4 linked regions of the Homo sapiens genome follow. The protein of the gene in region 3 interacts with the protein of the main gene of each other region in a pairwise test. Each region holds a gene or a part of one and is shown on either strand. Other genes may lie near its edges.

Region 1 (7,038 bases), on a different chromosome or scaffold from region 3:
CCCGTCTGCCCCAATGCTTACCACCCTTGCCAACTCAGCCTCCAGCCCTCTCGTCAGCCGCCTCCTTCCTAAAACCTCCCTCCTCTGGGCTCCATGGCCCCCACTCTCCAGGTTTTCCTTCTGCCTCTTGGCCTGCCCCCCATGGTCCACTTCAGGGGCTTCTCTTCTTCTGGCCATGGTCTCTAAAGTCCCAAGCTCAGCCCTTTTCTCTCTCTACCTTCTCATAGGCAAGCCCTTCTCCTCTCAGACATTCAGGTACCAACTGCACTCCGATGGCCCGTGACTCTCTCTTCCAGGACTGCTCCTCAGAGCTCAAGACCTGCAAAGCCCTGCCAGCATCTGAAACTCCACCTCCCCATAGAAACTCAGCCTCATCCTTGCAGATTGGTGCCCCAGGGAGAGGCACATGCTCTTTCTCCTCTCCAAGCCTTTGCCCAAGCTGTCCCTTCTCTCCGGAATTCCCCCTACCTCCCTGGTCCATCTGGAAATGTCCATCTTCCACTGCCATGACCATTTTTAAAATGCTACAGCAGTGTCACCAACTCAATAAGCCTTCCCCGACTGCACCCAGACTTAATTCCTCCTCTGAGTACTTCTGTGCCTGGAGTGAGTCTCTCACTGTGCCTGGGACAATTCCATCTCCCCACCCTTTCAGGCAGGGAGCTCCCAGGGGGCAGGGAGCAGGTCTTCTGACCACAGAGTCCCCTTCAACAAATGTCTGCAGAAATAAATTCCTCCTGTCATCCCTCTCTGGTGTAAAAACAGCAGCATTCTTCCAAATTCCAAAGCAGGAATCAGGACACTGTCTTAGGCCTCATCCTTCCCATCACTCCCAATTTGTCCCCAAGTCTTATTCATTCCAGCCACTCCGATTCTCTAAAGTTCATCCCTCTCTCTACTTCCCATGCGCTGCCTCCATCCAGCCACGTTTATGCCCCTGCTGGTCCCGAGGAAGCCTCCTGACTGGTGCCCCAGCTCATGGCACGGACCCTTCCCTGCAAGCCCATCCTTCCCAGAGCTGCCTGTATTCTTCACTGACTTAAAATCTTCCCTCACAGACAGGATAAAACCCAAACTCCCACAGCGTACATACAAAGCTCCCCATTATCTGAACATGGATGAAGAATCTGCTTTGAGCCCTTTTCCTCATTTCCTGTGTCACCTTGAATAAGTCACTTAACCTCTCTGGGGCTGGGTTCAGCCCACCATAAAATAAGAAAATAGGACTAGCTCTCTCGAGTACCAGGTAGTATCAAAGCTATGATTTGGGCAGCATGGTGGAGAGTGCAAGCCATCACAATCAAATGACTTCATCAAGTGCCTCTGTGTTGGGTACTTTACAAATTTAAGACTGACTTGGGGTTTCTGAGATAGTCATGTATTAACAGACACATAAATACTAAATCCATTTAAGGTACCTTATTTATATTAAATACAGATAAAGGGGAAAAGCAGGTCATGTGTGCGGTCATGAGTGAGAGAAGCCGTGAGAGCTGAATGTTGGAGAGAATTGCCTCTCGTGATCTAACCGTCCTTTCTGCTCCACTTTCCATGTGACTAAGCGACCTAAGGCTATTATAGGAAATGAAAGCCTGCGTAGCGTACCTGTTCACACTAAATGAGAGGATTTCTGTCTCTGAGTAATGTGATCTGGGTTGTGGCCTTTTGGTTGAAACCTCATAATCACTAAGTGATCCCATACCTCTCTCAAGTAGTGTGTCATGAACCCGTCAATGATTCCATCTTGCTCCAGTCCTATGATGAGGTTCACCACGCTGGTAAATCCAAAAACTGCATACACTAGAGCAAAGAAAGCAGCAGTTTAAAAAGCAATAGCTCAGGAGACAATTACTACAAGCTTGGCATCAGCTAATAATAATGGAATGTTTTTCATGTTTTCCAGAAGATGCTGTGGACAATTATCGAGATAGACTAACAGAATACCCCTTCTACACACCCAGCTGGACCTCCACCTGTGTTCGCAGCTCTCCCCATCCCTGCCTAAGTACTCTCATCAAGGGAACACTCATCACAGGAGTGGAGAATGATGGTCACTGCCGGCTCAGTCACAGAAGATTCTAGCAGGCCAACTCCACCCATCCTCCACTCCCCTACAAGTGGCTGCCCAGAATCAAACCCACATCCCACATGGGCAGTGGGAGCAAAGCCAGTAACTGAGTGGCCAAGGAAGCATAGAAGTGACCACTAAGTTTAAGACAATGATTCAGGCTGGGCATGGTGGCTCAAGTCTGTAATCCCAGCACTTTGGGAGGCTGAAGCAGGCAGATCACCTGAGGTCAGGAGTTCAAGACCAGCCTGGCCAACATATTGAAACCCCGTCTCTACTAAAAATACAAAAATTTTCTGGGTGTGGTGGTGCACGCCTGTAATCCCAGCTACTCCAGAGGCTGAGACAAGTGAATTGCTTGAACCCAGGAGGCGGAGGTTGCAGTGAGCCGAGATCACACCACTGCACTCCAGCCTGGGCGACAGAACAAGACTCTGTCTCAAAAAAAAAAAAAGACAATGACTTGACGAAGTGATTCATCTCAATGATTCCCAAGCAGGCCACCTCACAGCGTGTCCAGTGTGGTTACCCTATTCCACATGGCGTATCCTAGAGACAGACAGGTGGCTGATGTGCAAGTGACAATGGCTTTCAGAAAAAAGACTAGTGATGTTAAAAATGAATACAAGAGGGTATAATTGAATATGACAGAAGGAAAGCTATACCTGTCAGAGAATCTTACCAGAGTTGTGAGCATCTCCTAAATGGGCTTAAAACTACTAGCACAAATAACTAAGAAATAATACTTTTTAAACAGCAGGTGATCAAATTTAGTGCATGTTAGTTTGTCAAAGCTGCATTTTCAAGTTGTAACAGATTGGTGCCTTAGACTATGGGATGGACATGGACAGAAGAAAAATCTGATGGTGAATATAAGAAAAGCTGTGAAAAAAGAAATGGAGAGGAGTGTGGGGATGGTTAATTCACAGAGAAGGGAAGCCGGCCTTGCCTGGAGTCAGCAGCCAGGAGTCCAGCATTCACATTCTCCCCAGAAGGAACAAAAGGCCACATGTGCCCTGTTTTGCAGATGTGCCTTCCCCACGCCTCCATGGGGGCCTTTGGCCCAGTTCTCATTGGCAGTGTCACTTCCTGATACTCATTTTCCAGAAGCCTCCCAGGTGATTAGCCATCATATGTCTCCAAGAAAGGAAGTGTTCGGCACATAATCTGCCAATGATTGCTGATGACAACACAAGTGTCAGACACTGTGTTAGCAATGACAAGGACATGGTCTCTGCCTTCTAGTACGTGAGGAGTCTGGCCTTGAGCCTCACCCTGAGGCTGCAGTGTACTCAAAGTTGTAACAGACCAGGACAGAGGGCTGAGGGTACAGGAGAAAGGGTGCCCAGCCTTGAAGAGTCAGGAGAGACATCAGTACAGTTAATACAGGCTCCATGGAGTGGGGAGGAACAGGAGGGACAGACAGCAGCAGGAAACTCATCTGGAAAGGTGTGCAAGGGTCAGAGCACAGGCTAGTGGAGAGAGCCAGGAAAAGGCATGTGGGCCTTGAAAGCAGACGGACCCAGCTCATCTAATGACTGGCTGTAAAACCTTAGGCAAATTACATCATTTCTGAAGCTTCAGAGCTTCTTATATGTGGATTGGGAGAAACTAGTTACTCACAATTCTTCCTTCCCACCCCACCTTTCCCAAGGCCCACTGTAGGCAGAGAATGCTCCCTATGCTGTTGCTGATGGGCTTGGCCCTATGCCTCATCTCAGCCATTGGAATATGGGTGGGAGTAAGATGGGGCAGCTCCAAGCCAAGGCCTTAAGAGCCACCACTTTCTTCCTTCTAGCCCCACTGTGCCTCTGTATCTGCCATGAGAAGGGCATGCCTGGGAGCTGCTGGTCCAAGAACAAGGAGTCAGAGAACAGCCCTGAAATCAACCCACAGCCTGATGCAGAGTGGCCCCAACCCACAGACCTGTGAGCAAGAAAAATAAATGTTTGTTGCTGTAGGACTTGGGGTGCATTTGATATGCAGCATTACTGAAGCAGAAACTACAGAACAAAATGCCCAGCAAGGTACCTGGCACAGGAAGTGCTCAAAGGCCGGTAGCAGCTTGGCTGGGGCAGCATGCATGATGGAAGGGCATGGGCTTTAGGGGTCAACAGCCACACGACCTTTGCCACATTTCTTAGCATCTCCAAGCCAGCTGCTTCACTTTCAAGTGGAGGGATGGTGAGGATTAGGTGAAAGCCTGCTGCTAAAGTGCTCAGGGTCATACAAGGTGCACTATAGGTGCTTGTCTCTATGGCAGGTTCCATTATTTTCCTCTTCATGCATATGTGCAGACCCAGACACCACACAGTTAAGTTCTGCACTAAGTGGGGGGGACTGCTAGTAGCAGGCTGAAGACAGGAAGCCCAGGAAGGAGCTAGCATGAGAGTCGAGGTCAGAGGTCAGAGGTCAAAGCATGCTGGGGTTGGCAGGGTGCCCTGCCTGGCCTGGCAGTAACTCTCCACCGGGATGCCACCTGGGAGAGGGTGGAGTCCACTGCCTGAGAGGCAATAGCCAGAGGCGAGGGCCAGATTGTCCTGAAACACCCCTACACTTGCAGCCACTGTTACCAAAGGGCTCAGAGTATTCACAACCAAGGAGGAATATGTGACTGAGGCTGAAAGTATTGTGTTATTAATCAGATACAAAAGATTTCCCTTTGTGGAGACGTACCATAGAACAGTGGGTCCCGGGGTGGTTTTCTTTTGACGAGGACACGAGCCAGCAGTGCTACCAGGAACAGGATGAGGGCAGCAACCCCTACAATAGTCCAGGAACTGCAACGACCAGAACAGGGAGGTGGTCACTATCAAAATAAACACATTGGTGCCTGGAATTTCCTGACTATTGAATGCATTCCCTCCTAGTGCTGCATAATTCATCCATAATTCTGCCTCTGCCTGCAGCTCCCAGCACTGTAGAGTTAGTGAAGTTTATCTGCAGCTCTTTGGCCCATCTGGGCTGCAGCCCATGACTTTCAGGGACCGAAGCCATCAGGTCCTCCTCATTCTCCTCTTATCCTGTCTCATGTGCACAGATGACACGTCTGGAGCTCCCTCTGCCTCACCCCACCCTGCTGCACCTATGGCCACTGCCCCACTGCCTCCACTTACACGTTCCTCTAACCCCTGCTCCCTAGCAGCTGACAGGCCTCACCACTGACTCTGCCACCTCCCTCAGGGCCAGTCAGAAACCCTCAGACTGAGCTCCAAGGAATATATAGGCATTACAACTAAACATGCCTTCCAGGGGACAAGAAAGACCTTATGTTATGTGTATAGTCAAATGGGCCAGAGAATGAGGCCAGGAAATCCATGGAGAAGGAGTCTGGACTAGACCTGAGGCCAGAATGAAGATAGCCCAACACCCCAGAACCAGGGCCAACAGACCAGCATCCAACCCCAAACCATAGAAACCAAGGTGAAGCTTAGTTGAGTACATCCCCTGGATGTTCTACAGGAAAGGGAGTGGCACCAAGGACAGCAGGGGCCAAAGCCGCTACTCAGTGGGGCAGCGATAGGGCACGAGGCTTGGTAGAGTTATCAGTCAGGAAACCGGGATCCTGGTACCCATTCTGTTGCTAACTGTGTCACCCTAGGAAAGTCACATCATTGCATCTATCTGTTTATTAATTAATTCAAAAACATAGCAAGCAAAAAAATGTATTCTGCACCCCTATGTGGTAGCCATTGTTGCAGGCCCTAGGAGACTGGATAAATAAGAGAAGTCCCTGCCTACATGGAGGAACCTATCTCAATGGACTCTGAGCTCTACCCACTAGGAGTTCTCCTGCAGTCCAACAGCAATACTCTCCCTCTCACACCTCCAGCACTGACAGGGCTTCCAATTCTAGACAAAATACTACCTGGCCCACTCCAATGGCCTGCTACACCAGGACCTCTTCAGATTGGAGCAGCTACAAGCACCACTCCTCAACTGAGACCCCTCCACACCACCACAGCCCAACATCGGGACCTTTGGATAACTATCACCGTCCCCTAGGAGAGAGAAAGATAAGAATAGAAGGAGGGAGGGAAGGGGGGAACAAATAGACGATGAGTGGATGGATAGATGGATGGATGATGGGTGAATGGTTGGATGGATGATGGATGAAAGGATGGATAGATGATGGATGAATGGATAGATGATGGATGAATGGATGGATGGATGATGGGTGAATGGGTGGATGATGGGTGAATAGATGGATGGATGATGGATGAATTGATGGATGATGGAGGATGATGGATAAATGGATGGATGGATGATGGATGAATTGATGGATGATGGAGGATGATGGATAAATGGATGGATAGATGATGATGAGTGGATGGATGGAGTATGGGTGAATGTATGGAGGATGGATGGATAAATGATAGATGGATCAATTCTATGATAAGAATGAGGCCGGGCGCAGTGGCTCACACCTGTAATCCAAGCACTTTGGGAGGTCGAGGCGGGTGGATCACCCGAGGTCAGGAGTTGGAGACCAGCCTGGCCAACATGGTGAAACCCCGTCTCTACTAAAAATACAAAAAATTAGCCAGGCGAGGTGGCGGATGCCTGTAATCCCCGCTACTTGGGAGGCTGAGGCAGTAGAATTGCTTGAACCTGGGGGTTGGAGGCTGCAGTGAGCCAAGATTGCACCACTGCAGTCCCGCTTGGATGACAGAGCAAGAGTCCGTCTCAAAAAATAATAACAATTAATTACATTTTTTAAAAAAGAATGAGGGTGGCTGTTTCAATGTCCAGGTGAGAAACTGAAAAATAGGAGGTTTCTGGTGATTGCACTTCAGTGGTTGCTCCAGGCTCCTCCTGTGGGGATGAGCTGAAGAAGGAGGAAGCCAGTGTGGGTCAAGAGTATGATGCTGGGCTGAAGAATCCCATGAGGGAAGAGGTGGGTGTGCTGGGTCAGCTGACAGGCATTTTAATGGTGAACAGCCTGAGGCAGGTGGTGGTCAGGTGACAAC
Region 2 (3,961 bases), about 49 Mb from region 3:
TCAAGCTTGCCCAACCTGCCGCCCGCGGGCCGCATGTGGCCCAGGATGGCTTTGAATGCATCCCAACACAAATTCATAAACTTTATTAAAACAGTATGAGATTATTTTGCGTTTTTTTTTAGATCATCAGCTACTGTTAGTGTTCGTGTATTTTATGTGTGGCCCAGACAATTCTTCCAATGTGGCTCAGGGAAGCCAAAAGATGGGCCACCCCTGTCTAACTTGTTCACAAGAATCAGTGAAATATTAGACCAGATCTGTGCTCTTTGAGGGTATGGGACATCCTCTATCCAACACCCTGAGGTCATAGTCTGTCATTGCACCACAGGGTTCACATTGAACTGAGTGAAAGAAAGGATGATAATTTAAGAAGAATGAATGTGCCGGTTATCATCTGTGCACTGGCCGGACTATCCAAACTCAGTCCCCAAATCTGAGGATCATTACGGGATGCACCTTTTGGATATGTGCAAGGGTTTGAAGTCTCTACCAAACCAACTGAAGTGATAGTTAGCAGGAGGATGTACTTTTATTAAGGCATTATTAATTCAGGATGACATATTTATTTGTCAGAGTTGAATACTTCTGTGATGAAGGGCAATGCTTTCCTATGATCTTTCAATCTTTGTATCATCAAAATTACAATGCCAGTTAATATACTATACTCAGAATATTTTAAATAACTTTATTCTTAAATTTAACAAGCTCTTATTAGAAATGCTTTGGTATCAATAGAATAAAAAATGCTGGTTTTCCCCCACTGAATCGTGTCAAGTAACTGGAAAAGTTACACATTTGTTTTCCCCAGCTTTTTGGGAATTTTTCACAAATAATGACTACTACTTATTCACATGGCTTAATATGGTACACTGTAATGATAATTTTTTGGACTTCAGAAAAAATAAACAAAATATCCAGAAGAGAAATTTGCAAATGCTTCTTAGTTTCTTCTTCAAAGGATGTTTATATAGGTGGTACAACTCTTAGATCACCTTTTTTCCCAGCTTTGCCATTCTCATCCTTAAAGCTGCAAATTAAAGAAAAAAAAAGAGAGTTATAAAAAAAATCCTCAATTTTTACTCTAAATGGCCATTCATAGAATGCAGGAAAGTTTAGAACATACCTCAGATGGTTTTATCCAACAGTGTGAGCATTGATTTAGTAGCACAAAAAGATAGTAGAAATAATAAGCTATGGTTAACTTAGGGCAGAAGCAGGTTCAGAACTAGAAGGAACCTATTTCTATAAAGATTAGAAAAATTAGTAGAGCAAACAGTACAAGTGGAACAAATACAGGATTAATGCACAGTTTCCCTATTAGCCATACATACAGATTCCTATAGGTTGATGACTGTTTTACATACATTTCTGAGTTATGTACTGCCAAAATAAAATGGTGTTTACACTTAAACTCTATTTCATGATCGTGTTTGCTTTCAGCTCATTCAACTTCCTTTCCCAAAGGAGCTCTGGCCTTTGGATATACAATAACAAAAACAAATTTCTTTACGAATGAAACAACAGGAACAAGTTATTAAAAGCTGGAGTGATTATAAAATGTCTTTGTCAAGATATAAGTATGTTTTAAAATGGCAAATATATCTTTTTGGATATATTCCTCTGCTAATAATATATTGAATGTAGAAAGCATTTTTTAAAATGTAGATTTAGAATGTATAACACTTTTCTGGTATTCTGGATGAGTATTCTGGTATTCTATTCTTATTATTTAGGATTTCAGTGTAGAGCTGCCTTAGTCATGTTCCAAAAGTTGATAGATGCTTTCAAGGCACTGATCTAAAGATTATGTTAATGATCTAATATTACATTCACATGTAATATGGCCCAAGAACAAGCTATGTAACTGATTGCACAATTTTGTCTCATGGAAAGTAAAATGGAAGACATGTTTTCTCATTTGTATACCATATATTGGTTACCTTTTGACAATGGAAATGACCCCATACCTAAGAAACCTTTTTGCACAAATATGAGAAGGGATGGGATCTAATTCTGTAACAAGACCATGATTATTTTAATTGTCACTCCACTTATATGAAATATTTTAATTTCAATGAAGCTAAAGAGCATTATTTCCCTTGAAACTTTAACAGGGATGATCAGTTCTAGTGGCAGGGCCAAGAATATTCCCTAGAATTTAGGATGAACTGAGAGAATGTGCTCTGTAGCAAGCAGGTCTCGATTGCTGGCAGAGGCTGTAGTTACATAGCAGAAGGTGAACAGAAGGCAGAAGGCAGAAGGCAAGTCTTTATGAAGTTTATACTGTTGGATTTTATGGACCTCTATCTTGCCCCTACCAACAAAAGAGAGTAGGAGTGAGGGGCTTTTTGAGTCTCTTATAAGTCACGGGCAAATTGCTTTTTCTTACAGTCACTCCTCACTGTAAGATTCCGTAAATCAGGCACATCCTGTGTGCTGTGGACATTCAGAGAAGTTTGCTAGAGTCTGCTTTCCTTTCTTTCCTTTTTTCAAGCCTATGGCAAGTAGGTAGTGTGAGTTCCAGTAAATGCATGGGGCCAGAGCATGTTGGCAATAGAAGGCTTGGTTTAGCAGCTAAAAACCCTGGGCCATCAGCTCTCTTTTTTACTTCTATTTTCTGCTCCTGTCTGATCCCTGCCTCTTCTTCCCATAGCATTTTAGATGCATGGTTTCAGCTGGCTGAACTTGATAGAAGTCTCCTTACTCTCATTATCCCTTGGACTCTAATGGCTGTTGCAGGTTGGCAATCAGCACCAGTAGCATATGAACTCCCAGAGCTGAGATCCCCACCACTTCATCCTGGAATGCCACTGACACCTCTAAGAGGACAGAATAGAGCTGGAAGTACAAGAATAGGTTGGTGAGGACTACCAAAGAAAGCCAACTACTACCCCCTGATTGGTAGGGGTAGCAGTGAGTTCCCATGCAAAGCTGGCTGGGGCCATGCAATGGTGGAAGTGTCTGGCATTGAGCTTTATCCTATGAATATGTTATATTTACATTAAGCAGATGGACATAATGTTGCCTGAATTTTTCTGTCATGTCTTACTCTGTTCAAAATTTTGACTAAAAAAATCTTGTCTTTTGAATCTCCAGGGTCCACCTTTTTCCATTTCTTTCTTCTTCACGCTGTTTTCCAAATTAAAATTGCTCTTAGATAAGGTATTGATAACCATATTTATACCAAGGGAAAAGAGACTAACAATTCTTAACTATTATGCCTACCAGGGCTATTTATATTAAATAGGGGATTTATACCATAAATAAAGGAATTGACCTAAATGGTGAGTTTTCAAGTATCATAAGCGTTTTTTGGGGGAGTTATGGGGAGAAGCTCAACCCACTTGGTGTTTGTGAAATGGAAGTACGTAGGTGGTTATGTATTCTTTGTATATGGATGGCATGTGAGGGCATATGACACTGTGACTTACTTATTTTTAAAACCTACTTAAAAAATACACATCAGCTCTGTAGTCTGTATGCCGAATTGGAAAACAGCAATGTAAAACAATATCATGGTGGAAGGCAAGGAATTTGGAGCATTCTGTTTATAAGATACTTTGATTGATAATACAGAACTCTGTATTGTTACTTTGTCTGGAATAGGTTTTCCTGTTTTCATTATTTTAGTTCAGGGGCATGATTAGTGTTGTCTGGAAATGTTAGTCACTTCCTGTCATTTTCCATGGGGTAAATGTGTTGACAAGGTTAGAGGAGAAGAAATAAGGGTGTTCAGGAGGAGCTGGCTAATATCCAAGTTCAGAAAAGGGAGGTTTTATAGTGGATAATGTCACTGCTATTGACCGTAAACAGTGTGTTCCTCTCTTCTAAGTCTTCTGTGTTTTTTGTTTTTAAAATGAGTTTAAGATGGCAAAGTTTGATCAGTGACCAAAGCTCTCTCTTAAGATGGAAAGAAACTTAGTATCTGCAACTTTCCATTGTGAGACATATCACTCAACTC
Region 3 (7,038 bases):
GTTCCCTTAGCTCTGTTTTGTTTTCCCCAATCTGAGTTACATTAAAATAAAGACTCAGTTGTTTTTATTTTTCTACTGTGCAGTAAGAAAAAATATTCACAACAAACATGACAATATATCAAAGAATAGTTCTACACAAGTTACCTTGATACCTCTTTAACTGTCACTTAAATATCATAAGAAAACATTTTAAGACATATACAAACAAAACTAGCCAAGTGTTACAACTTATAATAAATTAACCCAAAGAAAAAATAACTTTATATATATATATTTATATTGTATATACACATACACACACAACAGAATGACACAATAATATGCTTCTTCCCATAGTTTAAGTAAACAAATAAGTAGTCTAGCCAATCTAGCTATATTTGATCTCGGCCATAGGCATCATCACATCGGCGATTAAATAAATAAGTGTTTCAAGCAACATAAACAGTGTTTCAAATGTACCAACACAGCCCAATTCTATCAGCATGGGCTACAAAGTGAATTTGAAAATTTCTTAATGAATTTAAAGCAAATGTATCTTTTGTTTTCCTCTCCTAAACACATTACATTTAACTATGATACTAAGATATGTAAATAATTTTGTAGCACCTACTGCTCAAACTAAGGAAGTTTTAGATCAAAAGGAAAATTAATCTTTTTAATTTTTGTTCTGCTGACATCCCATACTGATGACTTAAAGAAAAACTGTCTTTCAACTCATCTCCTTGCTTTTGGGTTTTGACTGTGGGGAACTGTGGTACCCTGGGTAGAACGAACACTCCTTTCCCCTAGTAATTAATAATTGTTTTTTAATTATTATTACATGCTATGAAAAGATATGAAGATCATCTGTTTATAGCCCATCCTTCAAAAAACAGTCTACGAATCCAGTTTAAAACACACATCTTGATCTCTAAAAAGTTACCAGTGCAGTATGAACGCGACAAAGTTGTCAATTTCCCCTAAATTAGCCAGTCAAAATATTTTTTTCTCAAATCCAGATTCTCTTGTAAAAATTCTTTATATTTTATAAAAATAGATTTTTCTTGAAACCCATTTTCAGCAAAGAGACCACCTCTTTGGCAACAATGTTAATGTTATTAAATTGTTAATGTCATCAGGTATCCCCCTTGCCCCCATCCCCTAACAGAAGACTGTTTTAGTTCACATGATATAAAAGAAAGAAGGAAAAATAAAAAAATTTGCAAAAGTTTTTTTTTATTTTTGCAATTTTTATTATTCCTCTTTAATTTGTGTGGGGGTTTTTACCAATCTGATTGGATCGATATTTTGACAAAAAAGAAAAATCTTTTTTTCCTTTCTTTGAATCCCATTACTTTGTAAAAATTGTTTTATTTTTATTATTTTTTTTGTTTTTTGTTTTTCTTCTTCAAATGAGCGAATGGTCATCTTAAAAAGATCCACCTTCAAGGAAGGTAGTAAAGTTAGCTGGCTGGGTAAAAATCCCTGCACATCGCTATCTATGTATATTATATTCAACAACGACAGCTATGAAAGAACATTCAATGCATCAAAGGTATTTTTTGTTTTTTTTTTTTCTTTTTTTCTAAGCATTATAAAATCCTTTCCTGGTACACCTCAGGATAATCCAATGTTTTAATACTTAGGCAACACTGGCTTATAAAGTCCATGGTTGAATATAAGCCTTGAAAAGTTTGTTTCTCTCTCTTTCGTGTATGTGTGTGTGTGCGCGCGTGTGTTTTGTTCGTATATATTTCTATATATATTTTAGTAAGTAAGAATGGGAAATTCAGGACTTGTGGGCTTTGTTGGTTTTAAAGGAAACTTGCAACACTCTGTCTCCCAGGCGGTACCCGTTGAGGCTGGCGATGGCCATGGCCGCCTCATCATAGTTGGTCATGGTGACAAAGCCGAATCCCTTGCACTTGTTGGTGTTGAAGTCACGAATCACCTTTACGTTGTTCACTGCTCCAAAGGGGCCAAAGAGCTGCCAGAGGACACTCTCATCGGAATCGGGGGACAGGTTGTAGACAAAGATGCACCACCCAGTTCCTGTGTGACCAGGGATGTTCATTCCCACAAGGCTTGTCATTCCATCAATGGTAATTGGGGAGAACCTGGGGGGACAAGCAGAAGGGGGGACTGGTCCAGACATCAGTCTGACCAAGGATAACACACAGATGCACAGACACAGACATGGGGCAGAGGGCTGAGTGAGTGTTTACAGGAGAGTCTTCAGGGTTCAAAAACCAAAATGTAAAAACTAATGTCTATGTCATTTCCTCTGATGGGAATGGCTTGACTGGCTAGGGCATGTTCATGCTGAGAGAAAGACCTAGGTCAATTTCTAAAAACCATAAGGGACTCCCAGGGCTCCCAGAGCAAGGCTCTGTAACAGTTCTATCACAGTATATGCTCATAGCGCACCCCAACCTGACTCCACCCCACCCCGACTCCACCCCACCCCAACAATAGACAATGTGCTCTTGGAGGAAAGGGTCTATTTCATTCATTCTGTGGCTCTATTTGTTTATTCAGTGGAGCACATATGGGAATCTCACAGATATAGTGACACATAGAAAATGCTCAATAAATATTTATTGGTTGAATAAGTGACTCACTTTGGCCAGTGCTTGGGAAATTTCATTGTTTTTTTTTTTAAAGGCAGATTAGGAGATGGCCCTAAAGTGCTTAAGTCTACCATTTTTGCACTCCCTTGACCTACGGTTGTCAAATGTTTCTTGGTGAGGATGGAGATACGTGACAATGAACAGGCCTTTCTTGCTATTAAACAGATGGGTGGTTCATGTTTCATTTAGCATTTATTCAAAAGGGTTTCCCCCACAAACTCAAGCAATAATAATAAAGATGTATTACTCCTTTATGCTATGTTATCTGGAATTTATTCCTAAGTATCACTGAAGCAAGACTGCAAGTGGTTTGTGCATTTATATATCTTGAATCGCTATACATTAGAAAAGCATAGAATTGTTATTTGCCCTATTACAACTGCTTTTGTATTAGGTTTAGAAATCTTCTCAGTTTTTGTGCAATCCTGAAAAGAAAAAATGACCCTTTAAATTCTATTCACTGTCTGATGAAATAAATCCTTGTGTAATTTGTGAGGGATGTACCAGATGAAACAATTAGGTTACCAGTGCCTATAGCAGAACAATATTTGTTAATGTTTTGTTTCATATCAAACTTACATAGGGACTTTTTTCTTTTTTTTTCTTTCTTTCTTTCTTTCTTTTTTTTTTGAGATGGAGTCTCACTCTGTCACCCAGGCTGGAGTGCAGTGGCGTTATCTTGGCTCATTGTAACCTCTGCCTCCCGGGTTCAAGTGATTCTCCTGCCTCAGCCTCCTGAGTAGCTGAGACTACAGGCACGCACCACCATGCCTGACTAATTTTTTTGTATTTTTAGTAGAGACGGGGTTTTGCCATGTTGGCCAGGCTGGTCTTGAACTTCTGACCTCAGGTGATCCACCCACCTTGGCCTCCCAAAATGGTGGGATTACAGGCATGAGCTTATATACGGATTTTTGATGCTATACACTGAATAGTTTCTTGCTTTTCATTTGGCCAGGGTTTTACTGGGGGAGATAGGAAAAGGAGAGAAAGCAAAAACTAGGGAAGAGCATGGTGTAAAGTGTGAGCTACAACTGTTTTTAAAAATAAGCAAATATTCTTGGAGATTTGAAAGTCCTATTAAAGAATAGTTCTGTATCTAACTAGAATTTGGATAATCAAATGGCTACTGAATATATGCTAAATATAACAACTCAATAGACAATATTTTTGCTATTATTCACTAAGTCAATCTTCCCTCTTGTTTAAAAACAATTAACAAGAAAAAGCCAAAAAATATCATGGTGTAGATCCTTAGACGTGCAAATCCATGTCTATTTGTAACTTGTATCATTTCTGAAGATTGTCTTTTTAATATTCTATCCTCCAACCAAGTGAGTTGACCCTGGTGAACTGACCTCTTTCTGTTTATAGGTAGAAAACAGCTAAGTATTTATTATAAGTCAAAGGTCAGGGCCAGCAAAGAGATTGCAAGTACAGCCTCTATCCTAGTTGGTGACAGTTAATTGCAGCATTTTGGTAGGAAGCGTTCTAAATCCAAATCTGGGTTCAATAGGAAAAGAGAATGCTATTATCAGCTAGTGATGTTTACTCTGGGTGGGGCAGTGGAGGAGGTGGTGGCAGGCCTACTACAGCTGTGTCTTCCCCTATCTTATCTATTTATAAGCATTTCTCTTTTCACAACATTTAGCACTACCTCACTAACATCAGAGAGGAGCAAAGGAATGAGATAGAGCTAGGAAAGATGTAAAATCCCTGGGAACAGGCAAACAGTGTGCTGGAAATGTGGAGATAATTCATAGTTATCCTCATTGATGCTGGGATTGAGATTTGAAAGGCCGGTCCTCTGATAGTGAAGTCTGCAGTCAGGTTACTTCCTCTACCATGCACCAGTTCCCAGAGTCAGGGTACTTACCATGGATGGCCAGTGAAAGAACTGGGGGTGTGATGTGGACTATTAAAGACTACATCTCTTTCCCTTGACTGTAGGAAGGGGAATTAAAGTGTGCAGCTCTACTGAGCAAGATGATGAAGACACTATGTCCCTAGCAGTGCAGTGGAGCTTATCAGAAGCACATATGGGAATCTCATGGACACAGTGACATCACACACCCAACTTTCCAAGATTCAGATTTCATACTGGGTCTGGAAAACTTTGAATCTGCATTCAGAGAGCCCCAAAAGCCTTGACTCTGGGCCCCCAACCCCACAAAAAGCCTTTCAGTGACAGGAACAGCAAGTTTAAAACACACATAACATATAACCAAGGGAGGATTTATAAGAACTGTTAAAACCTGTAACAAAAGAAACCCCTGGTTGAGGTGCACACAGATACACTTCATTCTCAGGATGTGCTCTGAAATGCACACTGAAGTGGGGGCAGGAGTTAGAAAGTCATCCACGTGTTTGTTTATCCTTTGGCCAGAGCTGGTAGTCCAAAATCTAATTTTTCTACTGAAAAATCATAAGATTGTCAACCACAATTAGCAAAATGTTCTAATTCTGATTTGCTGGAATCTGCCCTCTTAACTGAATCTTGGCATTGCTAATGCAAAACAGTTTGCTCTGCAAGTTTGCAAAACCAGCCAGCAAAGAGTCGGAGCCTTTCCCCTTAGGGGAGCCATTCAAAGGACCAGATTATTAAGGGCTTGGTAGCTGTGGCACCTGAACCATAGGAGAAGCCCACCTGCAAATAAAAGAAAAAGTGAAACACACAAATACATTTTGTGTGCCCTAAAAGAAACAAAATCAACTGAGGTCCGAAATTAAAATTAAGAATTTGACATGCTGGTGGAAGAAAAAGGAAGAATTTTTTTCTTTTAAAGTAAAGTTAGTGAATTAAAAAAAAAAAATTCTAGCCCCAGTCTGTGCCAACATGGACATCTGGCAATCTGTGGAGTTTTAATTACCTCTTTACGCCATAGGCCATATTAAGCAAATTGTCCAGCCTGCAAAGAGAAGGAGGGTCTCTGGGTTAATGCCTCACAGATGGCAAGATCGCTCAATGGAACTATTAATAAGAATGCTCCATTTTCAAAGAAGAAAAGCTCAACAACTTTCCCCACTGCTTAGGAGTCTATCCACCGGTAGTTTCCCCCTTTTCTGTCTCTAACTGCAAGTAATTCATGTTCAGGTCATTGCTAGAGTTTAAAGCAAGTGTCTAATGAGTCTCCCTTTCTTTCAAGGTCTGAATTAATACCATTCCCCCCACCTCTCAGAACATTTGTGTGGATTTTGTTTTATATTGTAGTGAAATTGTTCAAAGCGGGGGCTTCTTAAATTGTTCACCTTTTTACTATAATTAAACTTGTAAATAAAGGTCTCTGTTCCAGATTAACAATACACAGGCACACAATATGTATCAGAACAGATCTTTTCTGTTAGCCTTGCTACATTAACTAAATCATCTTACTACACACATTTTTGGGAGGCAGGGGGAGTTTGCAGGTTAAGATTTTTAAAAAGTGGCTTACTGTTTACTGCCTGATAGCACCTCCCAGCAAACTGCCATTACGCTATAATCTTCCTCACATTCACTACCTTACTTGGGGACAAGCTATTCACACCATAGGGCAGTAGTAACGATAGTTTCCACCATTAGAAGTCTGCTGGAGAGGCTTTTTACATAAATACTGCATGTGCTCTCAAGCAAAATAAAAATTAGATGACTTGGACTCTTCATGAAATCATTAACCATTTCAAATTCACAGGGCATAGGAGGACACGAAAGAGGATGATTTTTCTCCTCATGTAGCCAGATGGAGCATACTATCCTAGATAGAAGGACCTACTATTTCCCATGTGAAGTTTCTCAAAGAGAAAAACATTTTCATCAAAGGGAAGCTGGGCTGTGGTGTGGAATAAAGTAATTGTTTAGAATTTATCATGGGTAAGTCAAACATATTTTTATCTCTTGTATAATAGAGACCAGTCAAGGTCATACTGCCTTCATGGAGAGAAACCTGTCTTTTAGAAAAGTCCCAGGAGAAGGGCAATGCCCCCCTGCCCCAGGAGCTTCCTGGGGGTTGGGTACTTGAAGGAAACACTAATCAGGCTTGGACAGGATCTTCCTCCCTATCTTCCCAGAATCTACTGACTTAACATAATAAGGTTAACACCAAAGGCACTTCCCCCTCCCCTGAACTCAACAGAGTTACCTGCCGAGGGAAAAGAAGATAGGAAAAACAACTCCTTCTGGCAAGGATCTGCCTTATGGTCTATTTTTTGAATTTATTAAAAGCCACTGTCCAGCCTTAAGTCTAATCTGCTGAATGTGGTCACTGATCTGTGATTAACTCTTGTTGAAACTGAACCTTCATGTTTGGTTAAATACAGACATTTTGTTTCTACCAAAGAATCTAAAGTTTATACAGTCACAGTAGTAAATTGGAAGAGGGCTTAGAAGGGCATCTGCTCCAACTGTCTCATTTTACAGGAATGGAAACTGAGGCTCGGGGGGAGTTTTGCA
Region 4 (7,038 bases), on a different chromosome or scaffold from region 3:
TACAATAGAGATATTGTAAAAATGGGTGTTTGAGGAGGATCGTCTTTGAAAAATTATCTACTGGGTGTTACTGAAAATGAAAATTTTACAATACGGATATTGTAAAAATGGAGTTTGAGGAGGAGCACCTTAGAAACTTTATACAAGATGGGGATCCTGGGAGCAAGGAAATTGGAAAAAAAAGAATTACAGTAACCTGGGCCTCAGATCTACATGAAAAGCTATAATGGGATGAGAGAAATGGGAGATCAAGCCTCAAGGAGAAAACTGATTAAAAACTGGACTGACAGCAAGTTTTTGGACATGGAGAATGGAGAGCAGAAAAAGATAACTCCAAGGCTGGGGTAAAAATATAAAGGTGGTGACACTTTTCAGGGCAAAGGAATTACGCAATGAGGCCTGTTTAAAAAGAAAACGGGGGCTGGGGATATATGGTGATGAATCCTGTTTTCAAATATCAAGTTGTACAGGTACCTGTGGAAAATTCCAAAAGTCACAAACTGACCCACAGGGTGGGAAAAATGAAGTCATTCGAATACAAATAGTAGGTATAAACAATCAAAATGGATAAATAGGAGTATAGAAAATGAAGTGAATAAAAGACAGGGAGATTATTCTCAGTGGAGAAGAGGAGAAAGGGGAGTGGGTGGAAAGATCAACTAAAAAAAGAAAGACAGATATTAGAGAAAAAGGATCCCACAAGCCAAAGGAGGGAGAATTCAACAATATAAAATATAAATTAGATCAAAAAAGACAAGAAATAATAATAAAAAAAGGCCTTATTATTTGTCCACTGGTGAGTCTAAGAACATTTCACTGGAATGCTAAGTATGAAAGCCAGTAAAAAGAAGTTTTAAGAACAGATTAATGAAAAAGGGGGGTTGAAAAATCAAAGATATGTTTGAAAAACCATGAACAATAGAGGAGAAACAGAATGGTAGTTGGAAATGGGCAATGAGGATGAAAGCATTTCACATTTTATGCTGTAGATGAACTTACTATTGTCATCCTAACTGACCATCTGCCTGGCCTGGTACATGGATATTTCATTTCCCTCCACAATTCTACTTTCCCTTTGGCAGTTTGGAGAAAAATATATTTGAATTTATTATTGCTTTATCCTCCCAATTACTCTGTTAAATATGTTTTGTTTGCACAATTTAGCTTTGTAGTACTACAAAGCATCAACACTTAAAAATGATATAATTGTAACCCCAAAAAGCATTTTCCACCAATTTTCCAGTAATTGTAATGTATTTGCACTCTACTGCACATTCTTTTCCCCAGTACCTCTCATGACAAGCGCTACATATTTTTAAAAAGCTGGTTAGAATTACCATGTTCATTATACACACCTTAGCACAGTAGTCAGAACAGGCTCTAGAATCAAACTGTGTGGGTCAGAATCAGTTTTATCACATACTGGCTGGGTGATATTGGTCAGCTCACTCAACTAAGCCTCCGTTTCCTCATTTATAAAATGGGGGATAAAATAATACCTATTGATATGGTTTGGCTGTGTCCCATCCAAATCTCATCTTGAATTGTAGCTCCCACAATTCCCACGTGTCGTGGGTGGGACCAAGTGGGAGGTAATTGAATCACGGGGGCAGAACTTTCCTGTGCTGTTCTTGTGATAGTGAATAAGTCTCACAAGATCGGACGGTTTTATAAAGAGTTCCCCTGCACAAGTTCTCTCTTTGCCTGCTGCCATCCATGTATAAGACATGATTTGCTCCTCCTTGCCTTCCACCATGATTGTGAGGCGTCCCCAGCCATGTGGAACTGAGTCCATTAAACCTCTTTCCTTTATAAATTACCCAGTGTCAGGTATGTCTTTAATAGCAGCATGAGAACAGACTAATACATTTATCATGAGCCTGAGAAAGGCATAACAGGGTTGGGCACATAGTAAGTGCTCAATAAACGTCGGCTATTATTATTTGGAGACTCAGAACCAAGAGTAAAGTTAACTGCTCTGTTTGGGAATCAACCACCATATTCTAGCACTGCACCTTGCTCCATGGAGAAAATCTCTGAAACCTAACATGCCTCTCCCAGGGCTATGTTGGATGGCATTAGAGTTATGAAAGAACCACCTTATCATGTCAGTTCCTAAAATGAGAAGCTTAGGATGGGAGGAGAAAGTACTGATGAATAGTTCATTTCAGATGAACATAAAGATAGAATCTATAGGATAAAGGAGCTTAATGAATGCCATTCACAGTTAAGAGCTCAAAATGTCATACAGCCTAGTCAATAATATTCTATGCTAAGAGTGTGAACTTGAGACAAAGAATGATTTCTAGTGATGTCCTCAAAGAATCCACAGCCTTTTTCTATTGTCTTATACCATTTGGCTAATTCTGTATATGTGCTGTATCAGCTTTGATAATTCTTTCAAGACACAGTCTTTTCTCACACCCAATATAACACTAATTTTTCTAGTCATATTATTTTCTCCAAATTTATGCCACATGCTTAGTAATTCTGAGATTTAAGTAATCTGGCTACATATTACTCTTAATACTGACACATAAAGAGACTTTAGCTAGTACATCTGTATACATTTCAATGTGTTGCTCTGGTCTATGGCCATACCACCCTGAATGCACCCAATTTTGTTAATATGTTGCATTGCTAAAAGGACTTTTTATTGGAATAGAAGAGAAGCGTTCTTCTAAAGTGTATGGCAGGTGTGTGTGTGTGTGTACATACACATGTGTACATACACATATATTTTCCCTCTGACAATGCACCCATCATATGTAATATTTGCATACAAGGTAATACTGGCCCCAGGAAGAATCAGTATCTTACAGAGGGTAAGGCACAACTGAAACACAGAGCAAAGATCTAGATACAACCAGATTTACTTGTTTCTGGTTTCTTAAAATTTCAAGTACAAAGAAACTAGGAATGGTAACTTATAAATAAAAGAAACAAGAGAAGGGAGGATAAGAAAATAAAGGATAATCGAAAGGACTGTTGGAAACCAACATGACAAGTGATGGGTGTCTTCATTCACCAATGGCTCAATGAAATTGATGTAGATAATTCTGATGTTGTTAGTGGTCAAAGTGGGCCATAGAGAGGCAGAGAAGGAATGTTATAGGGAAAGAATTTATGATCCAAAAGGTGGTCCTCTATGACGTAAGACTTTGATTGCTTTTTTTGGCCCATCAATCATAAAATGATTATTATTTCTTTTCAGGATAGTCACAGGGTGAAATTATGAAGCTTTCATCAGAACCTATATAATTTTTTTTCTGAATAGGCTCAATGTAATCAATTTTAAGTTTAAAGGTTAATTTTGGAAAGCCCAAAATTTCTCAATTCCAACTCTGGTGAATAAGTGGCTACTCAAATGGTAAAACTAAAGTGTAAGAGTAATAGAGGGTTTTCTCATATGGTTTATTAAATGGGAATTCTAAGAGTGTTCCAAATATTTGGAAGAATATAGTAGTATGGAATAATAGTACTTGGGAATAACAAGTGACAACCCACATTGGATGCGTAAGTTCTGGCATGTTACTTTAAACCAGTCTCATTACTTTATATAGTATTCCTTGGTATAACAAAAGCCTCAAAGATGAAATATAGTGCCTGGTGATACTGAGTTTAAGAGTACATCTTTGTTGGTAGATTATAGACATGGATTACAGATGGAGTGCACCAGAGTTCAAAAGAATGAAAACCTGTGAGGTAAGGTATTAGATTACCACTGTGGATATTAAAGTCATATAAACTAATGGCAAGAAACAGATGGAGAATAACGAGTGAGGTGCTGAGGCCATCTAAAGAGATGGGTGCAAGGTAATGATAGGAGTGACAGACCATCTAGTCAGGGAGTTTGCACAGGCTGTTAAGAACCTGAGAAAGCAGTATTGTAATGGGCCAAAAAAGATGAGTATACATTCTTTGTAAGGTTTTTATCTTCCTAAAGCATCTTCGTCTCCTTCTCCTACCTGATGCCATAACTAGGATAGTGCCAACTATCTGTACCACAGTGTACAGTGGGGAGGTGGAAGGAGAGTCAGAAGTCACCAAAATGTATAACTATCCAAGCTCAAGAGCAGCTGGGCTGAGTCTCCACTCACCTCTTTCTCTGTATTACTCCCATAACCATTACTAATGTGTCCACTTTCTTTACTGACACAGGTGCTGGGACTGGGGGTGGTGAAGGATATGTACAGATGCTCAATGACTCAATGGAGTCAGTGAAGGTGATACATGAAGAAAAATGCTGGAGTGCTGTTAAAAATATAGCATTCTGAGTTTGTATGGGAATACAAATTTCCACTGACTAGAAGGAATATTAGAATAAAAAAATGCACACTTAAGCATAAATACTTTAAGTGTCTGTAAAATTTTCCTAGAAAGCTACATACAAATATAAGTTTCACACAGAAGCTACTTCTGACTCTACAGCAGCTTCTTAGATCAGATTAGGAATACAAGGGCACCTTCAAGGGAATAAATGGGAGAGGGGGATCACAGGAGATGGGAAGAAGCACAGGAACTAGGAGTAGCCAGCCTCTCTCAAACCTATAGCTACTCACCCAAAAGACAAAGTTAAGCTCTTCAAGCCATGACAAGCAACTTGCTCTAATGCTATTTTAAATTTCTAAAGGATACATTAGGTCATCAGGAGCTCCATCAGATACTTTCAAAGACAGTCAAGCTAATCAACCTTCACCAAGGCACTGGGCCCAAATTACTAAAGAGCTATCCTAACTTTGCCACCACTATAGATTCTGACACTAAAGTTGTGATGACCTTTCTGCCTTTTAGTACACTGAAAGACCTCTCACCAGTGTGTGGTTTCCCTAATGCTGAATAATGCTCAAACTCTAACTGATGTTGTTCCTAAACGCTTATGGATTCAGATTTTTCACCACTGTGGATTCTCTGATGTCGAATGAGACTTGACCTCTGAATAAAGGCTTTCCCACACTCATTACATTGGTAGGGCTTCTCCCCTGTGTGAATTCTCAGGTGTTGAATGAGACCAGTGTTCCCATTGAAAGCTTTCCCACATTCTTTACATTTATAGGGTCTTTCTCCAGTGTGGATTCTCTGATGTTCAATAAGGCCTGACTTCTGACTGAAGGCCCTCCCACACTCATTGCATTTGTAGGGTTTCTCCCCAGTGTGGCTCCTCTGATGACCAATAAGATGTGAGCTCCGCCTGAAGGTTTTCCCACACTCATCACACTCATAGGGCTTCTCCCCAGTGTGGATTCTCTGATGTCCAATGAGGTGTGAGCTATGACTGAAAGCTTTCCCACACTCATTACATTCATAGGGTCTCTCTCCACTGTGGATTCTCTGGTGCAGAATAAGGCCCGCACTCTGACTGAAAGCCTTCCCACACTGATTGCACTGATATGGCTTCTCCCCAGTGTGGATTCTCTGGTGCAGAATCAGGCCTGTGTTCTGACTGAAGGCTTTGCCACACTCCTTACAGTGATAGCGTTTTACTTTGTTGTGGATATCCTGATGTGAAAGAAGGGCTGACCTGTAACTGAAGGCTTTACCACACACATTACACTGATAGGGTTTCTCCCCAGTGTGGATTCTCCAGTGGCGAACAAGGCCTGAGCTCTGAGCAAAGCTTTTCCCACATTCATCACATTTATGTCGTCTCTCTTGTGTGGGATTTCCCCGCTGCCTCTCTAATCTGCCCAGAAGGTCTCGGGCTTCTTCATGCTCAAGACCCCTGATAACATCCCCGTTGCATTTGGCAGCTGTCTCTCCATGTGGCTGGATTCCAGTAGATATTACCTGTTTTGAAGCTAATTCCCTGTTCTCACTCCTGGTCTCACCACCTGAAATAAAAATGTAATAAACAAACATCAAGCCAATGTCACAACCTATTCTTTATGCTAGGAGAAAGGAACTGAAGATAGGGGAAAAGGAAAGTACACATGAACAGCTATAAGTAAACACAAAACTTCTGTCTCCAAAATAGCTTCTTAATAGTGACCTTGCTTAATATGAGCTAGTCAACTGGGAAAGAGGTACCATTAAAAAAAGAGAGTTAATTGGAAGGGGAACTAAAGTCAGGAAAGGATGAACTGAAGTGAGGTGAAAGTTGGGGAGAGGAATATGGAACTACTAAAAGAACTAATGAGCAGGACAGAAATGGGAAAATGCCCAGTCATCAAAAGGGAGGAGATACAATTAATTTATGTGAGAAAAATATATGTAGGAATCCCATGACAACTTGGAGAAGAAATATATGAACTCAGAGAGCACCTCTGAGATGTCAATTTCCAACTGGCAAAAACGCCAGTACCCTGGTACAAAATGTAAGGAAGTTCTGGACAGGAGAACAAAAGTTTCACGTAAGATTTCAAGAAATCTCAACATCATATCCCTCTGCTGGATCCTGAGTTAAACTTAACTATGTCTTTCAGAAAGGCTGTAGCTACTATACACATAAACAACAAACAAACAAAAAATCTAAAATGACAATAATAACCACACCTCTCCTTACCCAGGGAGAACATGTTTCTGAAATTTTCTGGCCTGTTATCTCTACACAGATCCTTCTGTGATGGATCAAGAAGCCACTCCTCTCGAATAAGGGACACAGCCATGTCTTCAATCTTCTCCAAAGTCTGAAACAAAACAAGATCCCCATTTGGGGACTGGGACTGTTCCACAGCTCAAACCTATAGAGCTTGAGAGATCCACCAGTATTGGGAGAGAATTACAACTTGGGAATGTACTATGTAAAGGGATCTGAATAGCTAGGAAGAAGAGGAAAATGCATGAGATTTACTGGGGGAAATTCAGGATCAATCTGTCCCTAGGCAAAAGAATTTTTGGGACAACTTTTTGGGTAGGTACTGCTACAAACTAGACAGTCAAGATATAGGGCAGATGCCACAAACACTGACAAGCACAGCTATGGCGTTTCAGTGAGAAGGAGCACAACTCACCTGGAACCCTGCTGTGAGAAGTGTAGCTGTCATTTCCTGGTCTCCAGAACTTCCTTTCTGGGAACGAGTAGGACTCTGGGAAGTAGAC

Evidence for each region.
Region 1: the proteins of ELAVL4 (region 3) and TM6SF1 interact in binary tests that used the Homo sapiens proteins (3 or more experiments, as listed by UniProt).
Region 2: the proteins of ELAVL4 (region 3) and PALMD interact in binary tests that used the Homo sapiens proteins (3 or more experiments, as listed by UniProt).
Region 4: the proteins of ELAVL4 (region 3) and ZKSCAN8 interact in binary tests that used the Homo sapiens proteins (3 or more experiments, as listed by UniProt).

What each region holds. Positions count from the first base shown.
Region 1 is NC_000015.10:83,110,607-83,117,644, reverse strand, and holds part of TM6SF1 (transmembrane 6 superfamily member 1), read right to left. Parts: intron 4,908-7,038; exon of another isoform or gene 4,849-4,907; coding exon 4,745-4,848; exon of another isoform or gene 1,937-4,744; coding exon of another isoform or gene 1,904-1,936; intron 1,801-1,903; coding exon 1,703-1,800; intron 1-1,702. Other genes in the region: HDGFL3 (hepatoma-derived growth factor-related protein 3), read left to right, coding at 1,904-1,936. UniProt on the Homo sapiens protein: May function as sterol isomerase.
Region 2 is NC_000001.11:99,691,085-99,695,045, reverse strand, and holds the end of PALMD (palmdelphin), read right to left. Parts: intron 1,028-3,961; coding exon 984-1,027; 3' UTR 511-983; downstream 1-510.
Region 3 is NC_000001.11:50,195,909-50,202,946, reverse strand, and holds part of ELAVL4 (ELAV-like protein 4), read right to left. Parts: intron 5,519-7,038; coding exon 5,480-5,518; intron 2,139-5,479; coding exon of another isoform or gene 2,097-2,138; coding exon 1,769-2,096; 3' UTR 1-1,768. UniProt on the Homo sapiens protein: RNA-binding protein that is involved in the post-transcriptional regulation of mRNAs. Plays a role in the regulation of mRNA stability, alternative splicing and translation.
Region 4 is NC_000006.12:28,151,849-28,158,886, reverse strand, and holds part of ZKSCAN8 (zinc finger protein with KRAB and SCAN domains 8), read right to left. Parts: coding exon 6,951-7,038; intron 6,627-6,950; coding exon 6,503-6,626; intron 5,832-6,502; coding exon 4,870-5,831; 3' UTR 1-4,869. UniProt on the Homo sapiens protein: May be involved in transcriptional regulation.